7 linked regions of the Homo sapiens genome follow. The protein of the gene in region 1 purifies or fractionates together with the protein of each later gene. This does not show direct contact. Each region holds a gene or a part of one and is shown on either strand. Other genes may lie near its edges. The genes, in order: ENTPD2, FAM20B, CLPTM1, ASIC1, PIGN, PTDSS2 and ITFG1.

Evidence for each region.
Region 2: the proteins of ENTPD2 (region 1) and FAM20B purify together in Homo sapiens (affinity purification with mass spectrometry; one large-scale study listed by BioGRID and IntAct). This does not show direct contact.
Region 3: the proteins of ENTPD2 (region 1) and CLPTM1 purify together in Homo sapiens (affinity purification with mass spectrometry; one large-scale study listed by BioGRID and IntAct). This does not show direct contact.
Region 4: the proteins of ENTPD2 (region 1) and ASIC1 purify together in Homo sapiens (affinity purification with mass spectrometry; one large-scale study listed by BioGRID and IntAct). This does not show direct contact.
Region 5: the proteins of ENTPD2 (region 1) and PIGN purify together in Homo sapiens (affinity purification with mass spectrometry; one large-scale study listed by BioGRID and IntAct). This does not show direct contact.
Region 6: the proteins of ENTPD2 (region 1) and PTDSS2 purify together in Homo sapiens (affinity purification with mass spectrometry; one large-scale study listed by BioGRID and IntAct). This does not show direct contact.
Region 7: the proteins of ENTPD2 (region 1) and ITFG1 purify together in Homo sapiens (affinity purification with mass spectrometry; one large-scale study listed by BioGRID and IntAct). This does not show direct contact.

What each region holds. Positions count from the first base shown.
Region 1 is NC_000009.12:137,051,262-137,055,282, reverse strand, and holds the start of ENTPD2 (ectonucleoside triphosphate diphosphohydrolase 2), read left to right. Parts: upstream 1-1,221; 5' UTR 1,222-1,285; coding exon 1,286-1,402; intron 1,403-1,907; exon of another isoform or gene 1,908-2,273; intron 2,274-2,407; exon of another isoform or gene 2,408-2,934; coding exon 2,935-3,052; intron 3,053-3,622; coding exon 3,623-3,773; intron 3,774-3,912; coding exon 3,913-4,021. UniProt on the Homo sapiens protein: In the nervous system, could hydrolyze ATP and other nucleotides to regulate purinergic neurotransmission. Hydrolyzes ADP only to a marginal extent. The order of activity with different substrates is ATP > GTP > CTP = ITP > UTP >> ADP = UDP.
Region 2 is NC_000001.11:179,070,894-179,073,980, reverse strand, and holds part of FAM20B (glycosaminoglycan xylosylkinase), read right to left. Parts: intron 2,069-3,087; coding exon 1,837-2,068; 3' UTR 1-1,836. UniProt on the Homo sapiens protein: Responsible for the 2-O-phosphorylation of xylose in the glycosaminoglycan-protein linkage region of proteoglycans thereby regulating the amount of mature GAG chains.
Region 3 is NC_000019.10:44,989,880-44,993,379, forward strand, and holds the end of CLPTM1 (putative lipid scramblase CLPTM1), read left to right. Parts: intron 1-515; coding exon 516-706; intron 707-970; coding exon 971-1,066; intron 1,067-1,358; coding exon 1,359-1,494; intron 1,495-2,353; coding exon 2,354-2,521; intron 2,522-2,731; coding exon 2,732-3,018; 3' UTR 3,019-3,462; downstream 3,463-3,500. UniProt on the Homo sapiens protein: Involved in GABAergic but not glutamatergic transmission. Binds and traps GABAA receptors in the endoplasmic reticulum (ER).
Region 4 is NC_000012.12:50,056,191-50,060,395, reverse strand, and holds the start of ASIC1 (acid-sensing ion channel 1), read right to left. Parts: upstream 2,801-4,205; 5' UTR 2,480-2,800; intron 2,227-2,479; exon of another isoform or gene 2,174-2,226; intron 1,646-2,173; 5' UTR 1,630-1,645; coding exon 1,268-1,629; intron 638-1,267; coding exon 442-637; intron 1-441. UniProt on the Homo sapiens protein: Forms voltage-independent, pH-gated trimeric sodium channels that act as postsynaptic excitatory receptors in the nervous system, playing a crucial role in regulating synaptic plasticity, learning, and memory.
Region 5 is NC_000018.10:62,180,557-62,184,056, forward strand, and holds part of PIGN (GPI ethanolamine phosphate transferase 1), read right to left. Parts: intron 1-3,500.
Region 6 is NC_000011.10:488,279-491,899, reverse strand, and holds the end of PTDSS2 (phosphatidylserine synthase 2), read right to left. Parts: coding exon 3,588-3,621; intron 3,372-3,587; coding exon 3,253-3,371; intron 2,501-3,252; coding exon 2,386-2,500; intron 2,313-2,385; coding exon 2,167-2,312; intron 2,018-2,166; coding exon 1,832-2,017; intron 1,481-1,831; coding exon 1,318-1,480; 3' UTR 501-1,317; downstream 1-500. UniProt on the Homo sapiens protein: Catalyzes a base-exchange reaction in which the polar head group of phosphatidylethanolamine (PE) or phosphatidylcholine (PC) is replaced by L-serine. Catalyzes the conversion of phosphatatidylethanolamine and does not act on phosphatidylcholine.
Region 7 is NC_000016.10:47,451,064-47,454,563, forward strand, and holds part of ITFG1 (T-cell immunomodulatory protein isoform 1 precursor), read right to left. Parts: intron 3,096-3,500; coding exon 2,950-3,095; intron 1,728-2,949; coding exon 1,670-1,727; intron 408-1,669; coding exon 333-407; intron 1-332. UniProt on the Homo sapiens protein: Modulator of T-cell function. Has a protective effect in graft versus host disease model.

The sequences.
Region 1 (4,021 bases):
CATGGTCTGGACCCTGCCCCATGGGGCTGCCCTTTGGGCCCCAGCAGCCTGCACTCCCTGGTGGCCTTGCCTCGTGGCTCCCTGACGCTGTGTGGCTGGAATTATTGGGACAAGAATTCCCACTTTGCAGCAGGCGCAAAGGGGGTGGCCCCTGGCCGGGCTGGGATGCGGGGCCTGTGAGGCTGCAGAGCCGAAAGGCCAGCCATGTCGTGGGACGGAGGAGCAGGGCTTGCGTCTGGGGCCAGCTGCGCTTCGCCTGCCCCAGCCGTCCCCAGAAGCCTGTTGCTGACCCGCACCCCAAGCTTGGCCTGGGGACCCTCTTCCTTGCCTTTCAGGCCACGTAGAGGCCCCACCTGTTTCCGTCCTGGGGAAGCCTCCTCTGGCCTCCGCAGCCCAAGCCTCTGTTCCCCTCAGGCCGAGGGGGCAGCAGGCGCGGCTGAGGCCCTGGGCTGGGAGGTATGGACCTTTGGCCCGGTCTGTGCTGCTTCTCCTGTTTCTCGGCTCGGTGTGACCTGGGCCGTCCCTCCCCTTCCCCGTTCCTGCGTCCTCACCTTCACCTCAGTACAGGGCCCAGGTGAGGTGGATCTGACTGGGCCTCAAGGGTAGTTCTGGCCTGGGTCAGCTGCGTGTCTCTGGAGCTGACCTGCGCTGGCTCAGCGCCGCAGGCTGGCGGATCCTTGCTGGCCGGGAGGGCATCCCGCAGGCCAGCCTGGTCCTCACCAGCCCTGGGAGTTGGCGCTCAGGGCCCTGCTCCACAAACAGGTGCTGACCCTCGGCTTCCTCCTGAGTCCCCAGCCCGGGCCCCGCGTGGCTCCGCAGCCGACAGTGCCTCATTCCTGCAAGCGAGTCTGGCCTCCTTTCCCGGGCCCGGGAAAAGCGCGGCTCTCCAGCACAGGACCCTCCGAGCCAGCCTCGCCCGCCCACCCCCACGCCAGGTCTCCTGCCTCCACGGCCGGGGGATCCCCTTGCTGAGTGGGCGGGAAGGGGAAGGTGGGCCATAGCCGCGGGGCGCCCGGGCTCAGACCCGGGAGCCGGGGGGCGGTGCTGGTGACTCAGCCGCGCCCGCGTCTCTCACCTGCGCGGGCCGGACGGCGGAAGCTTGGGAGCGGAGGCGAAACCTGTCCGCCCGTGGGCGTGGCCGGTGATGGGCGGGCCCGCCCGGCCTCCCGCCCCTCGTCCCGCCCCGGGGCCCCTACCCCGCGGTCCCGCGGCCCCGCCCGCCTCCGCCTCCGGCTCCCCGCACTCTCCGGGTCCACGCATCGTCCTCCCGCGCGCCCGCCCGCCCATGGCCGGGAAGGTGCGGTCACTGCTGCCGCCGCTGCTGCTGGCCGCCGCGGGCCTCGCCGGCCTCCTACTGCTGTGCGTCCCCACCCGCGACGTCCGGGAGCCGCCCGCCCTCAAGGTGCGCGCCCGGGCACCCAGCGCACGTCTGGGGAGCAGCGGGCCGGGCTTGGAGCCGGGGAGGGGGTGCGGCTGGGAACCTGAGCAGGATCAGCCCGGGACCCCCACCGTGCTCTGCTCCTGGCGGGCTGGGTGGGGTCCCGGGTTCCGCGCTCTGCGCTCCCCGACCGGGTACGCGGAGGGGGCGGGGGGCGGTGGCGCTTCCAGGGCGACGCGGTGCTGAAGGAACAAGTCCCGGGAGTTCCGCGCCCGCCGCCGAGTCCGTCAACGCAGCCCAGGGGCTGTGTCCCCGCTCCCGGGATAGCCCAGCGATGCCCCCTGGGTGCTGCCGGACGCCCGCCCCCAGGCCTGTGCGGGCCCCCAGGGGCACTCCGGGCCACTTCTGCCCTGTGCCGCCGCCCCGGAGGGTGCGGTTAGAGCCACATCGACTGGGTATTCAGCCCAGATGGGGATCCACAAGCCCCAGGACCCAGGGCCCCCGCCAGGACACGAGAGTGGCCCAGAAAGACAGGAGGGCTTGACCGGAGCAGCCCTGGCCGGTCCTCAAAAGGTTGGAGCAGGCTAGCCTGGATCTCCACTCCAGCAGGCCCAGGGACCTCCTGGTCGGCCCCTTTAACCCTTTATTGGGCTTGTAGGGGGGTGGGGTGGAGAGCCAAGTCCCCCAGCCTGATGGGGAGTCAGAAGCAGGGAGCTCTGCGGCCCTGCAGGACGGCCATGTGGCGGTGCACGCGCTGACCTGTTGATGCTCTGGGCTCTGGGGAAGCCTTGGTCGGGATGGACTGGTGCGGCCCTCTCGGAGGCTGGAATTGGCGCCCGGGCCTGGGAGGCTGGTCCCCAGCTTTCCAGGTGGATCCAGGATGCTGGGGCAGGAGCTGGAAAAGGGCATTTACAAGCTCGTGCCACTCAGGTCTGCAGGAAGGCCCACCCAGCACCCCCAACAAGGCAGGGCCAGCCTCTCTCTCTGGCCCTGGCTTGGAGGCCTAGGGAGAGTGTCTTTAGAGCTGACCTGGCTCTGAGGCCCACGGCCAGCCTCGGTGGACCTTCTTCACCTGGGGCCCTGCCTCCTGCATCCTCAGGTTGGGCTGCCGTCAGAGGAGCTGGAAGGAGACAGAGGAGGAAGGAAGAGGGGAGGAAGGAAGAGGGACTCTAGGGAGCTCCTCTTGCAGAGGAGCTTCCTCTCCCTGAGCCTGGGAAACTTGTGCCCCAGGGAAAAGTCCCTGGGGACCCTCTGTCCCTCTGTCCCTGACTCAGTCCCTCAGTCTGCCCTTGCCAGGAAGGCTGCTGCCCAGACCCTGGCATGCTGGCTTCAGGTAGTCAGGAGGGAAGAGTCACCTCCCCACCACCTCCCTGTTCTCCTTCCAACCACGGCCTCAGAGGAGGCCCTGGCCTCCTCTGAGCTTCAGCATGAGGCTTGGCACATGACTGGGTGGGGGGGGGAGCGGTGGCAAACTGGAGGAACCCAACTTCACGTTTGGTGTCAGGGTGTCAGGGCCCCCGGACACCCCAGGCTGACTCCCTCCCCCTCCCCCGCAGTATGGCATCGTCCTGGACGCTGGTTCTTCACACACGTCCATGTTTATCTACAAGTGGCCGGCAGACAAGGAGAACGACACAGGCATTGTGGGCCAGCACAGCTCCTGTGATGTTCCAGGTGAGGCCCAGCCCAGCCCAGCCAGGACGCCCACTCACTGCAGGGTCTCTGGGACCCTCTCCAGCCTTAGCCAGTGCAGGTCCTTCTGCTTAGTGTTGGGTGGGGCTCACTCCAGGCAGAAGCCCTGGAAAGAGAGAGGCTGGTGCCCCTGCGCCTGAGTGGGGCCAGGAGTCGTTTGCATTCTAGAAAGGAAGCCTAGGCAGCAGGTGGGGAGGTTTGAGCCTCGCCGGGCCCAGTATTGGCTTCTGTGCCCCAGATGGAGCAGGAGGAGGTCTGGGGGCCTGGCGGACACACCCAGGCAGGCCTCAGGAGGCCAACCTGGGTTGACCATGCCCAGGGCTTTGTCCTAGCACCTGCACCCACACCCTCTCAGCAGGCAGCAGCCTTGGTCTCCGGGTGGCACCTGGGCCCCTTTGTCTCCAACCTGGGCGTTTCTGGGGGCTTAAGCAGGGAAGGTGTGCCACCTGGTCTGGGAGCCCACGGCCCCCACCCCCACCCTCACTCTCCTGGCCTACGGCCCACCTAGGGGCTGCCCGTGAGGCATAGGCTCATCTCTCTGCCTCCCTCTAGGTGGGGGCATCTCCAGCTATGCAGACAACCCTTCTGGGGCCAGCCAGAGTCTTGTTGGATGCCTCGAACAGGCGCTTCAGGATGTGCCCAAAGAGAGACACGCGGGCACACCCCTCTACCTGGGAGCCACAGCGGGTATGCGCCTGCTCAAGTGAGTGTGCCTGTGCCCTGGCCCTGTCCCCATGATGGCCTTTGGCTGTGACCCCTTGCAGGGCGGACTCCGAGCACCCCTACAGCAGGCTCACAGCCACCTGGGGAGAAGGCCTCTTGGAGTTCTCTGTGTTTTGCAGCCTGACCAATCCAGAGGCCTCGACCAGTGTGCTCATGGCAGTGACTCACACACTGACCCAGTACCCCTTTGACTTCCGGGGTGCACGCATCCTCTCGGGCCAGGAAGAG
Region 2 (3,087 bases), on another chromosome or scaffold:
TCGCCTCTACTTGACAGAAATGCAAAGCTGGAACAGCACCTCAACAAGATGCAGGAGCAAAGCACACAGCTCTGAGTCCATAGATGAGTGGGCACATCAGGCCTGTCTTCCTTTGCCCCTGTGTTTTACTGCAACTACTTACATGTTGAGATCACTTTGCCAGAACACAAAACAAAAACTGTGTTTTACAAACCTGAAATTTGAGAGTGCTAAGAGGAGAAAGAAGCATAATACAACATCATGGGTTCAGAACTCCAAACAAGACTGAATGATAGAATTAGGATTTGACATAAATCAAAATCTTAAGGCTCTTCCTTTTAACCTCCTCAATTTCAAGGCTCAGAAGGCTTAAAATCTTGGCCGGCCACGGTGGCTCATGCCTGTAATCCCAGCACTTTGGAAGGCTGAGGCAGGTGGATCACCTGGGGTCAGGAGTCCAAGATCAACCTGGCCAACATGGTGAAACCCGAAACCCTGTCTCCACTAAAAATATAAAAATTAGCTGGGCACGATGGCGGGCGCCTGTAATCCCAGCTACTCTGGAGGCTGAGGCAAGAGAATCGCTTGAACCTGGGAGACGGAGGTTGCAGTAAGCCAAGATCGTGCCACTGCACTCCAGCCTGGGCAACAGAGTGAGACTTGGTCTCAAAAAAAAAAGAAAAAAGAAAAAAAGAAGAAGGCTTAAAATCTTTGTTTCCAATCTTCCATGGCCCCAAATCACAAGATAAGTCCAGCCACTTATCTGAGAGAGTAAGGTATACACTCTCACCTGTAGGAGTGTCCCTTTCTTATGAGAAAGGGACAAAAAGGTTGCCGATCTCTTGGGAACAGCAGCTTCAGTGACAAAAATGCCTTAAAGGCAGAGGTGGAAATTCATTTCAGAAGAGAAACGAGGATGACAGAGACCACAGGCAACCTGTTATTCAAGGTATTATTTCAGTTTGCTTTGTTAATTTGGGAAGGACTGCTTTTGGCAAAAGGGGAAAAAATTAGTCTCCACAGAGAATCATGCTTAGATTGTAATAGTATTTTCTCTAGAGACAACTTTTTGGTTAATTGGGACACAACTATGAGAATGCAGAATTTACTTAGGTGCAAAGTCATGTTTGCTTTTTATACACCTTAAGATCCTAAATACAAGGGAACCTGTTTTTCAGTAGTTCAGTCATCTCCCTGATTCTGGTTCTACCATTGGGTCTCTCTCTCTTCTTCCCTCCTCTAAGATCATCAAAACAATACTACCCAATGGCTTAAAAGCCCAAACATTTTTCTGTTTTTGTCCTTCCCTCCAATTCTATCTTAAACATGTATCTCCTCTAACAGAGTGTGCTATTTTGGCTTGATGGAATGCAAGGTTTTATTTGCTGCCACTCTGTAGGACAGTAAGCATTCCAATGTAACTAGTTCTGGTAAAAAAAAAAAAGACAAAGAGATTGCAAAGTGTTTCCACAAAATCCACGGGCGTAGAGAAAGGACTGCAAGGTTCAACTCAAAACACATGCTCCAGAGCCAATCCCAGTATTCATCTATCCAAATGTCACACCTGTTTGTCCTTTGGCATGGGAATTAAGACTGACCAACTATGATGCCCAACCCTAGAATGAGCAATTGCCGAGGAGGTGAGAAGGCGATTCAGCAGGAATGTCTCCATGCTCTGAAACTTGTGGTCTTTGCTTTAGTTTCTACTACAGAAAATACCAAAGACATCCAAGGCCACTCTGTCCCGTCACCAGAACTTGCTGCTGGCCACTTCCAATCCATCTCATACCATTTGGAATTGATTGTGCTGTTTCTCTATCTTTGTAAAAAGAAGTTTCACTTATTTTGTGTCGAGAATTACAAGTGTGAGAGAGGCATCCTGTCTTCCACCAGTACTGTGTCCATCCCAAACTGGTCGGTGCACTGCTTCACGGTGGCCAGGACACTCAGGAGCCGCTGGTCCACGGCGTCCAGATGAGGATCAGAGAGCACTGGGGAGATGGGGTCATGGGCCATGGCAGATTTTAAGGCAGACTTTAGCACACCATTCTTTAGGTAGTTCAGTCTGTTCCAGGTGGACACCCGAATGCTGGGAGAAAAAGTTATAGAACAAGGTACATAAAACTTCTCATTATCAAACGGAGTTGAAAGCCTGCTAGGCAGACAAAAGTGAAAAAATAATTAGGTAAAATCCTTTAACTAAATAATTTTTGCTTTAGAATTACCCCTACATAATGAGTAAGCCACATTACTATGTTTTGATATTGTTTCTGTGTAACTAATCAGAGATATATACAGAGATTTACACACATGTTCACTGCAGTGCTGTTTATAACAGGAAAAATGTTGAACAATCTGAATGTCTAACGACTGGGAAATAGTTAAATTATGGTTCATCCATTGAAAGGAATACCATGCAGCTGTTAAAAACAATTTTGAAAATTTAGTGGAATGGGAAAATGCCTATGATATGATGCTGGGTGGGGGGAAGAGGTTGGAGGAAAAACCTGTTTCACTTCAAATCTGTAGGAAAACAAAATACACATACATGGATTGGAATGAAGTACACTACAGTGTTAACAAGAGGATCCTTAGACGTTAATCCTTAGACGTTAATGGGTACTATAAACTTCCTTCTTCCTCATGTGTTTCTGAAGTCTAAAATAATTTCTACTGGGAAAAAATTATTATTATTATTTTTTTTTTGAGACAGAGTCTTGCTCTGTCGCCCAGGCTGGAGTGCAGTGGTGTGATCTCGGCTCACTGCAAGCTCTGCCTCCCGGGTTCACGCCATTCTCCTGCCTCAGCCTCCTGAGTAGCTGGGACTACAGGCACCCGCCACCACGCCCGGCTAATTTTTTTGTATTTTTTAGTAGAGACGGGTTTTCACCGTGTTAGCCAGGATGGTCTTGATCTCCTGACCTCGTGATCCGCCCGCCTCGGCCTCCCAAAGTGCTGGGATTACAGGCGTGAGCCACTGCGCCTGGCGGAAAAAATTATTTTAAGGATACCTATCTGCCTTATTTCACCAACTGCTACCATTTGAATGTCTGTCCCCTACAAAATACATGTTGAAATTGCCATTGTAACAGTATCAAGGTAGAGTCT
Region 3 (3,500 bases), on another chromosome or scaffold:
TTTCCTGAGCATGGCTGTGAGCCAGTTCCTTCCCGGTGTCAGGGCAGGGGCCTGGAGGAGGTGGTCTTGAAGTGCATGCCACAGATCTTCCTTCCCAGGGAGGGCGAGCTGGCACCATGGTGTGGCACAGACCCCGCGTCCCTTCAGATTCTGCCATGCCAGGCTGTTTGGCCTCAGGGAAGCAGCTTCCCTGACCAGTCCTTAGCACCTGGCACGTGGTGAGCCCTGTCCATGGCACCAGTCACCGTCACCATCAGTCAAGGGACTGCACCTTGGGGTGCTGGGTGCTGACGTCCTATGGGAGGGCTCCAGGGGTGCCGCCTGTCTGGTGCTCTGGGGGTCACCCAATGAATATGAGAGCCTTCCTGGGAGAGAGGGGTCTCGTTCAGCACCCCTCCTGAGGACCCAGCCCCACCCCAGGGTGTGAGGATGCAGGCCAAGGGGGCCTGAGGGAGCTGCAGTAGGGTCTCAGCACCTCCTCAGCCTCCTGGTTCCCCCCTACCCCCTGCGCACAGATATCCAGTTCTGGAACAGCCGGCAGTCCCTGGAGGGCCTGTCCGTGCGCTCCGTCTTCTTCGGCGTTTTCCAGTCATTCGTGGTCCTCCTCTACATCCTGGACAACGAGACCAACTTCGTGGTCCAGGTCAGCGTCTTCATTGGGGTCCTCATCGACCTCTGGAAGATCACCAAGGTCATGGACGTCCGGGTAAGGCTGGGGCGCCATGCTGTCTCGGGAGCTGCAGGGGTTGGGAGGGGGTAGTGTGGCCCAGCTGGACCCTGGAGCTGGCCCCCGGGGGATTCCCAGCAAGTGCCTCACTCCCAGGACTGAGGGGATTTTCTCACCAGGGGATTTTTTGGGTCACACATGGGGCAGGGGAACTGGGAACGGTGGGGAAGGGCAGGGGCTGGTTCTGGCTTGTGGGGTGGGAGCCAGCGTAGCAACTGACCATGGCACCCACCTCATCCACAGCTGGACCGAGAGCACAGGGTGGCAGGAATCTTCCCCCGCCTATCCTTCAAGGACAAGTCCACGTATATCGAGTCCTCGACCAAAGTGTATGATGATGTGAGTGTCCTGCACAGTGGGCCCCTGGGGGTGGTCTCCAGGTACCACGTATCCCTGAGGCACCCGGGGCCGGCCATCTGTCTGCCGGACCCATGCTTTACAGCCTGTGCCACATCCTCTGTGTCCCCCATCTGCCATAACTGCTTCCCTGGGCGAGTCCGGAGTCCCCAGGGCTACCTGGAAATTCCCCCTGCCCGGCCTGCCAGACCAGGTGTGGTGGGTGAGGGCGGGGAGCAGGGCTGCCAGGCAGGGCTGAGGAGCTGGCTGACAGCCCCACCCTGTGGCCCCACAGATGGCATTCCGGTACCTGTCCTGGATCCTCTTCCCGCTCCTGGGCTGCTATGCCGTCTACAGTCTTCTGTACCTGGAGCACAAGGGCTGGTACTCCTGGGTGCTCAGCATGCTCTACGGCTTCCTGCTGACCTTCGGTGAGCGGTCCGGCCGCCCCAGGAGAGAGCAGGCCCCATGCTGCGCAGGGCTCACAGCCCCAGTGTAGGAGACAGACCCATCCCCAGACAGGGACAACCTAGGGTGGGCAGAGCTGGGATATAGGGAGGCCCGAGGGCACACATGGCCCCATCTGGGGTCAGAGAGGACTTCAGGGAGGACATGAACAGTACGCTTCAGTCCTCATTCTCAGGGGGCCTTTGTGTCTTGGGAACAAGTAAACAAGTAGGGCCAGGTGCAGTGGCTCACACCTGTTATCCCAATGCTTTGGGAGGCTGAGGCAGGAGGATCACTTGAGCCCAGGAATTCGTGACCAGCCTGGGCAACTTGGCAAGACCCGATCTCTACAAAAAAACACAGAAATTATTGGGGAGTGGTGGTGCGTGCCTGTAGTCCCAGCTACCTGGGAGGCTGAGGTGGGAGGATCCCTTGAGTCCAGGAGGTTGAAGCTGCAGTGAGCCATGATTACGCCACTGCACTCCAGCCTGGGTGACAGAGTGAGACCCTGTCTCAAAAAACAAAAGACCGGGTGAATCACAGCCAATAGTGAGTACTGTGAAGGGCAGAGTGGTGGGAGGATGCACATTAATAGGGGTCCGGGGGCCCCTCTGAGGACAGGACATTTAAACAGAGGCCTCAGATATCCAGGGAGAGAGCTGTGCGGATGTGACAGAAGGCCCCACCAGTGCAGAGGCCGCTGGTAGAGTGTGCCCAGGTATAGGAAGTGGTAGAGTGTGCCCAGGTGTAGGAAGTGGTGAGGGGGCTGGTATGGCCAGTGCAGAGTGCACAGGGGAGAGGTGGGAGAGGCCATCCCTCTGCTCATGGGTGCTCTCACTGCAGGCTTCATCACCATGACGCCCCAGCTCTTCATCAACTACAAGCTCAAGTCTGTGGCCCACCTTCCCTGGCGCATGCTCACCTACAAGGCCCTCAACACATTCATCGACGACCTGTTCGCCTTTGTCATCAAGATGCCCGTTATGTACCGGATCGGCTGCCTGCGGGACGGTGAGGCCCGGTGGGCAGGTGGGAGCTCCCACCGGAACAGGGCCCTGAGGCAGTCTTTAGGGCCCAGGCCTGAGGGGGTGCCACGGCCCCAGATGGGGTGCTCAGTCTGAGGGGGCTCGGCCCCGCCCTTGCATCACGCCCTCTCCACCCAGGCCCACCTGGCTGTGGACGGGCCAGCCCGACCTCACACTGCCTCCCACCCCTCTCCAGATGTGGTTTTCTTCATCTACCTCTACCAACGGTGGATCTACCGCGTCGACCCCACCCGAGTCAACGAGTTTGGCATGAGTGGAGAAGACCCCACAGCTGCCGCCCCCGTGGCCGAGGTTCCCACAGCAGCAGGGGCCCTCACGCCCACACCTGCACCCACCACGACCACCGCCACCAGGGAGGAGGCCTCCACGTCCCTGCCCACCAAGCCCACCCAGGGGGCCAGCTCTGCCAGCGAGCCCCAGGAAGCCCCTCCAAAGCCAGCAGAGGACAAGAAAAAGGATTAGTCGAGACTGGTCCTCACCTGCTCCGGCTCCTGGCGACCACTACCCCTGCGTCCCGGCCCCCTCGCCTCCCCTCCCTGTCGCCCTTTCCCTGGACAGATCAGGCCGGGGCGGTGGGAGGCCCGCCTCAGGTCAGGGCCCAGCGTGTGATGTAGGGGCCGGGGCAGGCCAGGGTTTGTTTGTGGAGGCGCTGTCTGTCCCTCTGTCCCTCTGTGTTTCCAGCCATCTCGCCCTGCCAGCCCAGCACCACTGGGAATCATGGTGAAGCTGATGCAGCGTTGCCGAGGGGGTGGGTTGGGCGGGGGTGGGGCCGGGCCCCCCTACGGGATGCCCACGGCCGTTCATCATCTTGTCCCTCGTCCCCCTACCACACTCCCCCTCCTAGACCGCCGCCCTTTAACACAGTCTGGATTTAATAAATTCATATGGGTGTTTAACTTAAACTCAGCACTGCCCCTCCTCCTCGTGCCTTCCTTCCTCTGTTG
Region 4 (4,205 bases), on another chromosome or scaffold:
TTCAGTAGGTTTGGGAAGTGGGGTGGCAAAGTCCTGCATTCCTTTCAAGCTCCCAGTTGATGGTCCTGGACCTCACTACAAGTAACACGGCTGTAGCTTACCCACCTGTCTGCTCAGCTCTGACACCTGTGGCCTAGAAGGTAAGCTTGGTGGGTTTGTGGCTATGCCAGACCACGCACGTGTGTGCATATATGTGTGTGTTGTGCACTGTAGGCTCTCTTTCCTGCCATCATGGCTGCAAGGCTGAGGCTCAGGTGCTCATGCAGTGAGTGCAAATGTGCCCCTATGCTGAACAAACTCCCCTTCTACTAGAAGCAAACCCCAGGACATACAACTTCCTCTCCCAGAGTAGCAAGCACCCGGAGAGGCCCAGCCTGCTCCTTGTCTCCTCCTCCTCCTCTGTGGGCCAGGCTGACTCACACCCCACACGAGGGGACTCACCACCTTGAAGTCTTCAGCGCTGCAGACCTCCCCCCGGAAGTGGCAGGAGAGCAGCATGTCTCGAATGTCGTGCCCAGCTCGGTCGTAGAACTCACGCATGTTGAAGGGTTTGGGTTTGAAGCTGCGGAAGTTGGCTTTGTCCTGCAGTATCTCCAGCTGCTTTTCATCTGCCATCTGTGTGTCTGGTATCTCATACCTGGGGTCCGGGGGTGAGTGACACACGGGTCAGTACAGTCATCAGTGTCCTGCACCCAACTTGGGTGATGGGGGCAGCCTCCAGCCCTGGGGATCAGTCCCAGGTGTAGGCAAGGAAGGAGAGCTGGGCATGCAGAGGCTCTACCACATGGGTCTGAAATGACAGGAGGAACTGTAGTGGCTGCCCAGGGGCAGGGCATCCCATCCCAGCACATGGGTGAGAGGAAGCATGGATAAGGTGGGCAGAGAGACAAGGCAGGGGCTGTGGCTTTTATACTGTAGTTTCTACCCTTTAAAGATGTTCTGTCCCCATCCCCCAACTGACGAGAAGGTCAAGACAGAGTGGCCAGAATGAAGGTAAAGCTCACTCCAGAGAGGGTGACAATGTCTCATACCTCAGGCTGGGTGGGGGTCGAGCTGTTCTGGACTATGCTGGGATCGGAGGCTGGGTGCCCTTAACTGGGTGCTCAGCAGCACCCTAACTCCTCTGCTGTGAGTGGCAGGTTTGGGGGTGGGGGTGGGTTAAAGGGCAGGGTTGGCTGGGCTCTATGGTGGGTCAGGGAGGCAGACATCCTGACTGGAACTCAAGCAACTCCAGGAGCAGGGCTGAGGGAGGGTGGGAGCCACCCACCTGTTGTTGAGCAGGGCCAGCAGCTCCCCAGCATGATACAGGTCATTCTTGGAGACTTGGCTAAAGCGGAACTCGTTGAGGTTGCACAGCGTGACAGCAGGGAAGGTAAGCTGAGAGGCAGCCACCTCGTCGAGCTTGGTGACATGGTGGTAGTGGAAGTAGTACTGCACACGCTCCGTGCACACACACAGCAGCACAGCCAGGGAGCCCAGGAAGCACAGGGCCCACAGTGCCCGCTTCAGAGACAGCCGCTCGTAGGAGAAGATGTGGGCCAGGCCGTGCAGTGTGGAGCTGCTGGCGAAGGCCTGGATGCTCACCGGCTGGACGCCACCCACCTCCTCCTCCTCGGCCTTCAGTTCCATCCTTGTTGAGGGGATCCTGGGGGAGGAGGGAGGGACAGTCTATCATTGTCCTGGGATGAAAGTACACATGGAGCCCCTCCACATGTGCCCATCCAGAATCCTCATCTCCAGAGGTCACCACTCCTCGGGCAGAAGACTTCCCTGCTTTGCAAGCCCAGAGGTGGCTGACCAAGGGACACATCCAGGGTTCCTCCAAATACAGAGGCACAGGGGGTCAGGTCAGGCCAAGAGAATGCTCCCCAGAGAAGCTTCCCAGGCCCGGGGAGACCCCAGATATAGTCATCCGAGGTTGAGGGGGAAGTCCTGATGCACCCATAGGCAGGCGCAGGAGTTCCCTCCAGATGTGGGGTCACTCTGGGACAAGAATATCCACCCCATCCTGGAGATGAAAACTCACCCAGATGGGCTGACCCCGGGGTAAGGAGCTCCTGTCCTGGTCACGGGTATTCCCTGGACGGGGCTGTGGTCCTAAGGGCTAAACTGGGGCCAGAAAACCCCCAGGGAGGTGGCTACATCTAGGGAGGGGCCCAGCCTGAGTCCTCACCTGCGGGTGTCTCCAGTTCTCACATAAGCGCAGGCTGTGTGTATGTTGGGAGTGGGGGGTGGCGGGCTGCCCGAGGTGGATGTATGGAGGGGGGGCGCGGTTCCCTATGACAGCGAGCTGTCCCCGCCCCGGACGCAGCCCCCCCCAGTCCAGCTTCTCGTCGCAGTCAGATCCCCAGCTCGGCCCCCGCCCCCCTCCCCAGCCACCGAGCCGCCCCAGCAGCAAGGGAAATCCAGAGGGAGGAGAGTCCCGGCTTCGGGGTACCGAGGAGCCTCGCGGCCAAAGGCAGGGGTATCGGAAACCCACCTGAGGGGGCTTCGGCAAGCCGGCAGCCGGCGGCGGGTCCTGGGGCGCTGGACCGGTGGCGGGCTCAGCGCCGAGTCGCGGAGGGGCTCATGGCCCGGGGCCGGAGCCCGCGGCCGCCGCGGCACGCCGCGCAGAGCCCTGCAGGGAGCGCCCCGCCCGGCCCCGCTCGGCTCCGATCTGTCCGCCCGCCCGCGCGCGCTGGCTCGCTGGCTCGCTCGCCTCGGCTCGGTCTGCCCGGGCTCGGCGCGGTGCGCGGTGCTCTCAGCCCTGGGATCTGCAGGGATCCATCGTCCGGCCGGGAGGCGGCGGGAGGGGAGGGGGAGGGGAGAGGGTGCGCGTGCGCGCCTACGAGTGTCTGCGAGGCTGTCTCTGGGCTGGTGTGCGCGCGGGGCCCCGGATCCGGGAGCGGGACCCAGGGCTCCCCGCGCCGCCTCGCCCCTCCTCGCGGCCGCTTTCGGCGGCGCTGCCTCTCTCCAGTCCCGGAGCCGTCTCCCTGCCTGCGAGGCCCTATGGCTTGTGTGTATGACTCTGTGTGTGGTGTGTGTGCGCGCGCGCGTGTGTGCGCGCAGGAGGGAGGGTGTCTGCCCCTAGCGTCCCTCTCCCCGCGCTGTCTCCTTCGGATCGATGCTCCTGCCTCTTGCTGCTGCTTCCTCTGGTGGCACACACGCGCGTACACACACACATACACACACACGCTCCGAGTCACACTTGACTAATTCAAGCACTTAGCCCATATGGAGACAGACACACATACCGACCAGAGTCACACCACACCATTCACAACCACACCCCCCCGCAACAGATGTCCACGTATCCCGGGGGCCTGACCCACATGGCAAGCACTCACCTGCTCTTATCCCTGCTCCCACCTGCATGTGACACATATACACGTGCACATATGTGAGCCAACACGCAGCCTTGACCACTCAGATCCCATCCTTGTAGCTTTGGGCTTGTGGGGGGCATGGTCGCAACCCCTTACTGCCAAATCTCCAAAGAAGGAGCAGAGAAAAGGAAGGAAAAATAGCCAGAGGTCAAGGGAATTTGGACAGAAGGAAGGAGGCAAAGGGAGTGAAGGGGACAGGGTGAGGAAGGGTTGGAACGGGGAGCTATGCTCAGGGATGGAGCAGAAGTCTCAGCACAGAACGCAGGCCTGGGGGCTGCTCCTGTGGCTCTCACCTTTCTCCTTCCCTGCCTCCCTCCTCTTCTCTGAGAGGCCTTGGGGAGGGGGGCCCTCCCTATCCAATTAACAGAGAAGGAGCAATCAAGGGGAAGTTGTTAATTTGCTGATGCTCATTAGGGGCTCTTAGCACAGAGGCTGTTGAGGTCTGATGGTGTCAGATGATGAGGAGGAGGGTGCGGGGGACCAGAGTTCTGTCTCTAGTGGCTCCTTCGCTCTACTTGCAGGCTGGTGCGGCTCGGGGAGAAGGATGGTGAGAGGTGTATTCCTAGGACATGGTGCCGGGCTTTAAGTTAGAAGAAAACCTGTAACGAGAAGGGGATGGCACATTGGAAAGAAGTTGGATGAGAAGTTGGGAGTAGTGGACATCTAGGAAACCAGAGAAGGGGTCTGGAGGTCCCTAGTGGGAGAGTGGACTTAAGATTGTGGAGGAGGGAGGTCGAGATCCATTTACTAGGGGACTGGACACGGAGCTGCCAAAAGGAAGGGAGGATCTTCCATTCAGGTCTTGGGGAGCTGTTCAGCGGTACCAGGCAGTGCTGGAGG
Region 5 (3,500 bases), on another chromosome or scaffold:
TCCTGTTATTTGAATATGTATTTGCCTGATTACTAGTGAGTATGAAAATTTTTTCATGTTTTTATTGGCCAATTGGGTCTCTCTTCCTTTCAACTGCCTATTCATATCCTTTGATCAGATAGGATTAGGGTTATTGACCTTTTATTTGACTTGTACATTACAATTATATGTGTGTGTATGTTTATATAGTGTGTGTATGTTTATACATAGCTAGATATACACATTTATATATAAATGTTGTTCATAGGGCCTTTTGTTAAAATAAATTTTTCAACTTTAATACAGTAAAATTTGTCAAACATTTATCCTTTCTGGTGTGAGTTTTTTGTGTCTTGTACTATAGAAGAAAACTTTCCTGGTTCTTATGTCACATATATTCTTCTAATAGTTTTAGATTTTTGTTTTTTACCTTTCATTATTTAAAATTTATTTGTGTTGGTTTGTGTCCTCTGAAACAAAAATAATTATTTGTATATGGTGTGAGGTAGACATCAGCTTATGTTTTTAACCAGCTCACAAGTATTAGTACTGCTACTAGTGTAGAATTTACTATGATAAAATTACACATCAGAAAGAAAAAGGTTTTAAACCTTTACATTCAAATCTTGGCTTTTGCTATTTGTAATAATAAAAAATTGGAAACAATATCTAACCATAGGGAACAGATAAATTGTTTATTCATAATGAAATACCATATTTCTGAAAAGGATACATCTCATAAATATCAGTATTAATAAAAAAAATTTTAAACATCTATTGCCCTTTTCTCCCCAACACAGTCAAACTTCTTGAAAAGGCTGAATGTGACCTCTTTTTTTTCCTGACCACCTAAATCTCAAACAACTTAAACCTTATTGTCATTACTTCATAAGAAAGTAAAGACAGTTAACAGTGCAAAATCTAATAGCTATTTTTTAGTCTTCATTTTCTAAGCAACCTAAGCTTCCTGGGCTAAGTCATCCTCCCACCTCAGCTTCCCAAGTAGCGGGGACCACAGGTGCATGTTTACCACATTCAGCTAATTTTTGTATTTTTTGTAGAGCGGGGGTCTTGCCATGTTGCCCAGGCTGGTCTTGAACTCCTGGGCTCAAGTCATCTACTCACCTCGGCCTCCTAAAGTGCTGGGATTACAGGTGTGAGTTGCTGGGCCCAGTCGCCTTCTCCTTTTTATTTTTATTTCTTTTTAGACAGAGTCTCGCCCTATCTATCGCCCAGGCTGGAGTGCAGTGGCGCGATCTCGGCTCACTGCAACCTCCACCTCCCGGGTTCAAGCAATTCTCCTGCCTCAGCCTCCCAAGTAGCTGGGATTACAGGCACACAGCATCATGCCCAGGTAATTTTGTATTTTTAGTAGAGACAGGGTTTCACCATGTTGGCCAGGCTGGTCTCAAACTCCTGACCTCAGGTGATCCACCTACCTCATCCTCCCAAAGTGGTGGGATTACAGGCATGAGCCACCATGCCCGGCTGCCTTCTCCTTTTTAATAGGCTGTTATCACTTGGCTTCTATGAACATTACTGCTTTCATTTTTCACCTACACCTCTGACCAATGTTGAACAGTCTCTATCTGATCACTAAATTTTGGAGTTACTCAAAACTTGGTCCTCAGCTGTCTTTTCTTCTCACTCTATACTTTCTATCCTGGCAAGTTTCATCATATCTGTGGCTTCAGTTATTACCTAATATGCAAAAGCCTCAACAAATTATAGCTCCAAATCCACATATGTAACTCGAACCTTTATAAATCTACATGGACGTTTCAAAGACACTCAACTAAGTAGGTTTAAAACCAAATTCATAACATTTCCCATGAGCCTTGTCTACTACCTACTAAATCCTTAGTGTTCACAATCTCAGTAGGTGGCACCACCTTCCCACCAAGTATGTAAGTCTGAGAAATAGGCATTGTTCTTTACACCCTATTCTTCCCCTTTATTTAATCTAACAATTGTCCACTTTGTGTTTCTTGAATCTGTTCATTTGTCTTAATCTCCATTGACACCTCTATAATTTAAGATGTATACCATCTCTTATGCGAACTACTGCAATGCAGGAATAGGTCACCCCTATATACTCTAACCCTTCTCTGATCCATTTCTTGCCATGTAGCCAGAGTATTACTTGCTTTTCTTTTTTCAAAAGAAAATCTGAACATCTTACCCCTTGTATAAAACTCTCCAGTGCCTTCTGTGAAGCATTCACTGTCTTTAAAGTCAAAAGACACGTTTGCAACAACACGGATGTTCCTGAAGCCTGGTATGCTAAGTGAAATAAGCCAGGTGCAGAAACACAAATACTGCATGATTTCACTCCTATGTGGAACTTAAGAAAGTTGACCCCACTGAATTAGAAGCAGAATGGTGGTAACCAGAGGCTGGGGTAGTTCCACAGCGGGGGGCAATTGTAGAGATACTGATCAAAGCATTCATATTAGAGTTAGATAGAAGGAATAAGTTCAAGAGCTCTGTTGTACAGCATGGTGACTCTAGTTAATGATGATATATTGTATTCTTGAAAACTGCTAAAAGGGTAGATGTTCAAATTTCTCATCACAAAAATGATAACTATGTGTAAGGTAATGCATTTGTTACTTAGCTAGATTTGAGCATTTCACAATGTATATAAACTGAAGAACATCATGTACACAATGAATACATAAAATCGTATATTAAAAAATAAATTTAAAAATGAAGTCACAGCTGGAAAAAAAAAACTCTCCAGTGCCTTTTCACCTACTAATCTAGACTAAAATCCTTAATGTGACTAACAAGGTCTTTTATAGACTAGCCTCTGCCTTCTTTTCTAAACCTGTCTCATAGCACTCCCCTTTACTTTGTAACATCTCACATCACTGGCCCCTTCTTTTATTCAAGTATCCCACTGCTATAAGACCTTTGTAGGCTCAATTCCTCTCTGCAGAATGTACTTGCAACCTATCTTCCACTCTCTCCTAACATTCCATTTCAAGCATCACTTCCTCAGGGACTATGCAGGTGAAGTCAGAAACGAAAACTTTTACTTCAGTTTGTAATTACATAGCTTTGTCTACGACTATTTGAATTAATGTCTGTCTCTGTCACTTCACCACAATTCCATGACAGCAGGACGGGGCATCTCCAACACCCATCAGAGTCTTATGCACTTAGTAAGGACTCAAATGTTTGCTGAATAAATTATTTAGAATTATCATTTCAAGGGTAAATGCAATATGCACTACAGCCACTAGAGGATGCCCTGCTTCTGTTTTTGTTCCTCCAGAACAAGATGTGAAGACTGAAAATACTTTAAAAAAAAAAAAACTAAACCTTTTATGATAAAGTAATTTACTATTAATGTAAATAAAATTGCAGTTATTACAAAATATCAGCATTCACTAACTACTTATTTTAATTAGTTTAATTGCTTAATACTAAATATTACTTAATACTTCTCTTTAAAGAAAATCACAATTTATTCAGATTTATTGAAAAAGAAATACCTCCAAAACAAACACATAACT
Region 6 (3,621 bases), on another chromosome or scaffold:
GCACCCCAGGAATCCTGTGTCCACTGCCCAGTGTCTGCCAGCCTGGGACAAACACAGCACCCCAGGAATCCTGTGTCCACTGCCCAGTGTCTGCCAGCCTGGGACAAACACAGCACCCCAGGAATCCTGTGTCCACTGCCCAGTGTCTGCCAGCCTGGGACAAACACAGCACCCCAGGAATCCTGTGTCCACTGCCCAGTGTCTGCCAGCCTGGGACAAACACAGTACCCCAGGAATCCTGTGTCCACTGCCCAGTGGCCGCCAGCCCTTGGACAAGCGCAGCAGAGGGTGGGTGCCACCTGGACCCTCCTGGAGAATGGGAGAGGGGCTGCATCTGGCACCTGCTCTCTCTGGGGGGTGGGGCGGGGCAGGCGCCAAGTCTTTGCTCAGGTGCAGAGGCTGAGTGCCTCCTGTCCTCTGTGTGGTTTTCCCCAAGTGGGCACTGGGCATGAGGGCAGGCTGGAGGGCTGCACTGGACCCCAAAGCAGGACACGGGGAGCTGGGGGGAGGGCTGGAAGCCTCAGACGTTCGTTGTCACTTTATTGGTTCTCTTTGCTCGTGAAGATGACCCTCACCTTGGAGCCACGGAGGCAGCATGACCCCAGCACCCGGGTTCCAGGCCCCCTTGAGGGGCAGCTCAGTGATCTCTGACCCCATCATCCACGTGTCCTCCGGGGTGGTCTGTGTGAAAGGAAGGCTCGGAGGAGGTGGCTCAGCATCGCTGCCTGGATCCGCTGCCTCTCAGCCACGGAGTGTTTGTGGACGAGCGCCCACACGAGCTGCGGGGGAAGTGGATGTGGAGCCAGTGTAGACGCCTCCAGGCCTCAGCGCACCCAGGGCCCACGGAGTGCAGAAAGGGTACCGAGATGTCCCTGCCTGGACCACACCATGGCTGGGTGACAGGGAGCTTGGTGGGCCAGAGGCCACGGGGCTGACCAGGCAGAAAGGGGAGGGAGGACCCTGGTTCCTGAGGGACACACTGCCCCAGAGCATGCCCTTGCCACGCCAGCCAGCTCCCAGCTCTGGAGAAGCCTCGGAGCCCAGAGCACACGTGCACACCACAGGCGGCCACGCATGTGTACACACGCGCGTACACACGCGTACACACACGCATACACACGTACACACGTGTACACATGGAGATGAGGCTGTGCTGGGGCCTCCTCCACCCCTCGCCTTCAGCCTCGCCAGGTGCACAGGAGAAAAGCAAAAAACCTTGAGGGCAAGGCCGGGCACGTGGCTCCTGGTGGGACTCACACAGGAGGAGGCCACGGAGGCCTGGGCTCTGGGAGGCTCACGAGGCAGCCACGGCCCAGGTCAGTTTGGAGTTGGTGCTCCCTCGCCCTCGGCCACCCCAGGCCCCAGCAGGTCTTCGTCCAGCCCCAGTGGGTGCTGGTCCCCGTTGCCGACGGTGCTGCCCTGGTCATCCTTGTTCTGCCACTTCTGCCACCGGGTCTCCTTGTACCTCAATGTGATGTCCCTGGGGAGCGGGATGCAGCGTCACCACCTGCCCCCACACCAGCCCCACTGCAGGCCCCATGGACAGCTGGCACCTAGTCCCTGTGGAGGTCCGGAATGGACTGGGTGGGTGCCGGGTACCCTGGCCCTGGGACGGCAGCCGTGGCAGACTGGAGCCCTGAGGAGCCTGGATCTGTCAGTGCAGAGCGAAGGCCCCGAGGGCTGGGTCAGGAAAGGCGCCTCCCGCAGAGGCGGCCAGAGGGTTGAAGCAGGGACAGTGAGACACCAACGACACCAAACTCCCACAGTGCCTGTGCCAAGGGACCCGGACAGCGGCCCTCCTTCAGAACATACGCGCCCTGCCCTGACTCACCGCAGGAAGAAGCGCCAGACGGTCCAGGTGAGCGCCAGGACGGAGCCGAGGGTCCAGCACTGGGAGATGTAGAAGGGCAGGGACAGGGTGAGCGTGTGGGGGTCGTACTTCACCACGATGAGCAGCTCCGTGGCCGTGATGGCCGCCACCAGCCAGGCCTGCGGGCCCAGCTTCTTGTGGGGCTTCCTGCAGGGGCAGCAGGGGGTTCAGCGTCCCGGGCCCCGCAGGGTCCTCCAGGCGGACTTGCCCAGGCTCCGGCCTCCCAGGCTCTGCTCCCCAGCCCTCCGGCCCCTGCCCCCCGGGGGTGTCTCCACCCGGACTGCCGCAGCCCTCACGGGTCATCCATGAAGTCGTAGATCTCACGCATGGCCACGCCACCCACGTTCACGAAGAAGACGAGCCGCAGGAGGACCAGGTAGTGCTCCGGGGGCATCCACAGCACAAACTTCAGGTAGAACGTGTTCAGTTCTGCCAACAGGAACTAGGGGAGGAGAGGGTGAGCACCAGCTCTGGCCCCCCGCCCGCCGCGCCGTCGCGAGGCAGCCCGGCCTTACCACCAGGATGATGCCGCACACGGCCAGCCAGCGACGCAGGCTGGAGGCCGGCTTCCACTCGAAGCGAACCCAGCTGTACGGCGTGAACTGGAAGGCGATCCTCTTCATCTTGCCCCTGGGAACCACAGAGCCGGCAGCCTGAGGAAGGCAGCCCACCGAACCCTGCCCTGTGCCATCGGGCAACAGACTGTTCCTGGTCACCCGGCCCCGCCCTGTGCCATCGGACGAGCTCTGCTCTTGGTCACCCCGCCCCGCCCTGTGCCATCGGGCCACAGACTCTGTTCCTGGTTACCCAGCTGCTGCCCGGCTGTTCTCCGAGGTCTGGCCACCCAGCTACAAGCCCTGCTTCTCCACGGCCCTCTGCTGTTCAGTCTCTTCCAGCTTGAGCAGTGGCTGCAGCGCCTCAGAGGGCGCTCCACGGTGCCGTGAGCTAGCCATGTCTGCAGAGCCAGGCAGAGCCGGGGCACCCACAGGCAGGAGGGGAGACCCCCGTCCCCCAGGCCTTTCCTTAGACTTCTGTTTCTTTTTTAAATTCCAAAGTCATAATGACAAAGTACCTGCAACTATTTCATAACCAAAGCAACCAAGGGAGGGAGAAGCACGGAATGATCCCACAGCCCCTGCGCCAGGCCGGCCAGGGATTGAGGAGGGAGGTACGTGGGTCAGACGCCATGGCCACTGTGAGGGGCGGCCGGGCTTGAGTGACACCAGGTCAGAGGGAGGTTCCAGGAGGCAAAGCCCCACGGTCACCCCTCCTGAGCCGCACACTGGACGGGCCTGGTGCTCGGGGTCTGCTGGAGCACGGACGCTGAGGCTGCCTCCAGGTAACCCCCACCCGGCCCTGCCCTCGCAGCCCCCACGACGTACTTGTAGGTCGGAATGTTCCAGAGGCCCTGCCACTTGTACGTCTTCAGGGACAGCCACTCAAGGGTCTTCATGCCGCAGTAGATGCCCAGCCCGTTGCAGACGAGCACGTCCATGATCCACTGCAGGGAGGGGCCAGCACTCGTTGCAGGGGTGAGGGGTAACGAGCCCCCCGAGGAGGACCCCGGAAGAGCACAGGGGAACCGAGAATGCCCCTCAGCCTGCACCCACTGCCCCCCGGGGAGAATGAGGGGGTCCAGGGGCCGCGCTGGGCACAGGGGTTCCGAGAATGCCCCTCAGCCTGCACCGACTGCCCCGGGGGCTGTGCTGGCACCTACGTGATCCCACCAGCACTCGCTGAAGTTGGGCAGC
Region 7 (3,500 bases), on another chromosome or scaffold:
ACTAAGATAGGGAGGATCCACTCAAGACTGCAGGTATCCTCCCTATTTACGTGAAATCTATCCATTTCAAAAACATTTAATGAACCAATATTTAAATGGGGACCCGTAAAGTTTCAATCTCTAATTTTTCAAAGAGATAAAAGGAGTAAGCTGGCCCTTGGAAAGCAGGTGCAGGCCAAATCCAAACTATTTGAGAAAGCTTATATATATTAACCAAATGCCCACTTAAAAATCTTTAAAAACAAGGATTCCAATGAGCTATTTTTTCTCCAATGGTTAAAGTAGAAGCAATATATACGATTAATTACATAGTTATAACCATATTTACTCACCCTCCTAATAGTATCTGTGGCTGGTTGGATTCATTTGTGATACCAAAAATATCAGGAATTAGATCACCATTGAAACTGAAAAAAAATTAAAACAATAAGCAGCTATTTCTTTAAATTCTTACTTCTAATTTAGCTTTAAAAGAAGCAGTAACTTTTGGGAAGTGTGGTAGACATTACAATGCTCGCCAGTATCTAGTGATAAGTATTAAGTCAAATGTCAGCACAAGTGACATGTGTCACTTTTAGGCCAAAGTGTATAATTTCTGTTACCAGCCCCTCCAGCCCTCTCCAGGCTTGCCATGGCAATGAGAAGGCATTGTGATTCAGATGGACTAGCTACAAAGACAGTGGGCTCTCTGATGGCCTGACTCTAAGCAACAGCACAGAGCAGAGCCTGTTGTTGACCCACACTGGACATATAGTAAGAGCAAGAAATAAATTCGTTTTGTGAGATTTTGGGTATCTCTGTAATCTTTGCATTATCTAGACTACCCTTGAATGATAAGGATACAGCACTAATTCCTAGAAACTTACTTCAGAATCCTAAGCCAACTTGTTTACTTAGATGGGCTTAGGAGAAATAACCTAGAAAAATAATCCTAGTTGGTATAAAACTTCATACTGGCCATTGAATATTTTAACAACAATGAAAAAATACACAACTATGAAAGAAATCTAGCGGGGCACCGTTAAGAAGATTAATCCATGGATTTACAGTTCAGACTTCTAATGGCCACTGACACACTGCTGTATGGGTATGATTTTAATAACTGTAAGAAAGACAGTACTGGAAACAAGAATGTGGCCAAACTTTGCTCTAGTCCCGGGAATGATCTCGACCTCTACCAAAATACGCTGTCAGAAATTTGCAAATCCAAATTTACATCAATTATTTAAATCAATTATGCTGGTACATGAGTCTACAGTGAGAATATAAATGATAACACAAAGCAGGAGTTATATTATAAAAAGAACAAAAATTTCTCCTTAATATAGGAATCTTTCTAAATTTCTAGAGGAAACTGTATCCTAAATATCAAATATAACAGTTTTACTCAAAAACAGGTATCTTAATTCTTTCAGTAATGACAGCATAGATCCATAATGGACACATTTGAAGCGACTGAAATAAAAACACAAATCTCTTCTACTTTCCAAAATAATAAATTTCATTTTTCTTTGTCCTATCTGATGGCAAATAAATACAATATAATCAAAGGTACAGGCCTCTGAGTGAATTTAGTATTTTTATTACTAAGCAAAGTAGTTTCCTATGTGAAGATTTTATTTTATGTTTAAGTTTAAAATCGTTTCAAAGGAAGCAAGCCCATACTTACTCCATAATTAGTGGCTCATCTTGAAAAGTCCTATTGAGTATGGTCATATTGTTAGGATCTGCAAAAAAGATATATATATATATGAATTAGCAGGCATTTTATATTACTTTTGATATCTATGCTTAGGAAAAAATATTCTTCTACTCTTTTCTAGATTTATCTCTGATTTATTCCAACTATTATCATTAATGAGATACTATAAATCTAGTTCAAATGAACATCAAGCTTGCAAAGACAAAATATTGGGAGAATACATTCTACAGTGAAGACTAGCATTACAATAACCTCCTTTTGAGGTATGCATCTAAATATTTGCTAGCTGAGTCTTTGTCTTTACACAATTTAGTGCTAGAGAGGTTGACAATTAACAAGGTTTTGGTGTAAAGAAGGCCACATATGCAAAACTTCCTGGTTCTAAAATGTACATGCTTATATACAAGCTTTGTGCATGGTACTCCCTCTGTAAATATTTATTGACTTAATGAATATAATGTATCGCGATTACTGTTTACATTCCCAAATGGTGCAGAAAACATGACTGAAATTTGGCTCCATGAACAAAGTTGCCTATTTAGGTATAACTAATTGGCTTTTCAGATAAGGCTTGATGATTTGTGACTAGGTATGGTAGACTGACTCTCGAACCATACTTCAACTTTTTTGTGCTTTCCTGTGCTAAGGAGACTAGAAACCAAAAATAGCATTTTCCAGATATTGTGGCATCTGAGATGCTGAATAAAAGTTAAGCCTTGCCAATCAGATACACTGTGAGTCTTAAAGGCATGAATGAGGTAAAGGCTGTTTCTCTGCTATTTCTATCTGTGTCTGCTCACTGAATTTGGGAGTATCAAGAGACCAGGTGCAGCATTCATTTTGCTAGTGAGAATCACTGCAGGCACAGCATCATTCTGGCAGCAGTTGTGTAACTAGCCACTTCTGATAGGGGAAAGAGGCAGTAGCTTTTTTGATGATATTGGGATTGCTCCTGAAAGCTCAACCTAGAGTTTATTCTTTAGCCATCTCAATGATTCTGTGAGCCACTAAAATCCTTTAATAAATCTCTGTCCTCTTTAAGCTAGTAAGAATGAAGTTTGTCAGTAGAAGTGATCCCTGCCCAGTTCAGGGTTGAAAAAGAAAAATCAGGAAATAAACTTTGAAAAAAGGTTTTACAATTATTGACACCCAAGAACAGTATTTTTGAACTGATTTCAGAACAATATTTTGTTACATTTACCTTCATATTCAATGATAAATATTAAAAATTTTTAAAACAAATTCACCTAATGTTTGATTTTGTCCCCAGAAGATAACAGCTCCTAATTCACTCTTGGCATAATTTTTGGGAAGATATGTCAGAAGGACATCCATTTGAGAATCTCCATCATAATCCCCAGGGACTACACTTGTTATCAATGCACTGTGATTCCTAAAAGAAACAAGCATTTACAAATATCAGACAAGTTGTAATGGAAAAGGACAATTCTGTATTTCTACCACACAAAAATATTTTCAATGAAAAACTTAAAACTTAACAGAACTGACTGATTGCCTTCTCTTTCCTATCTTTTCATCCATCATGTATTTAGACCTCTTTGGTCTAAAAAAGAGTTCAGAATGAATGCAGAATAGTCTCAAGAAACAAGACAAATCTGAAATATGTCGAGAGAAAACGTGTTTATTATGTTCAAGCAATGGCTAGTATAGCCCTTCTATATAGTTCCTTTGTCAAGGACACCAAGACATTCGGATGGTGTTTCTAACAAATGGAGGCTCATAATTGCCAAAGCAGTAAGCATTATCACTGGGATGTTTTCAATTAAAAGATATTATT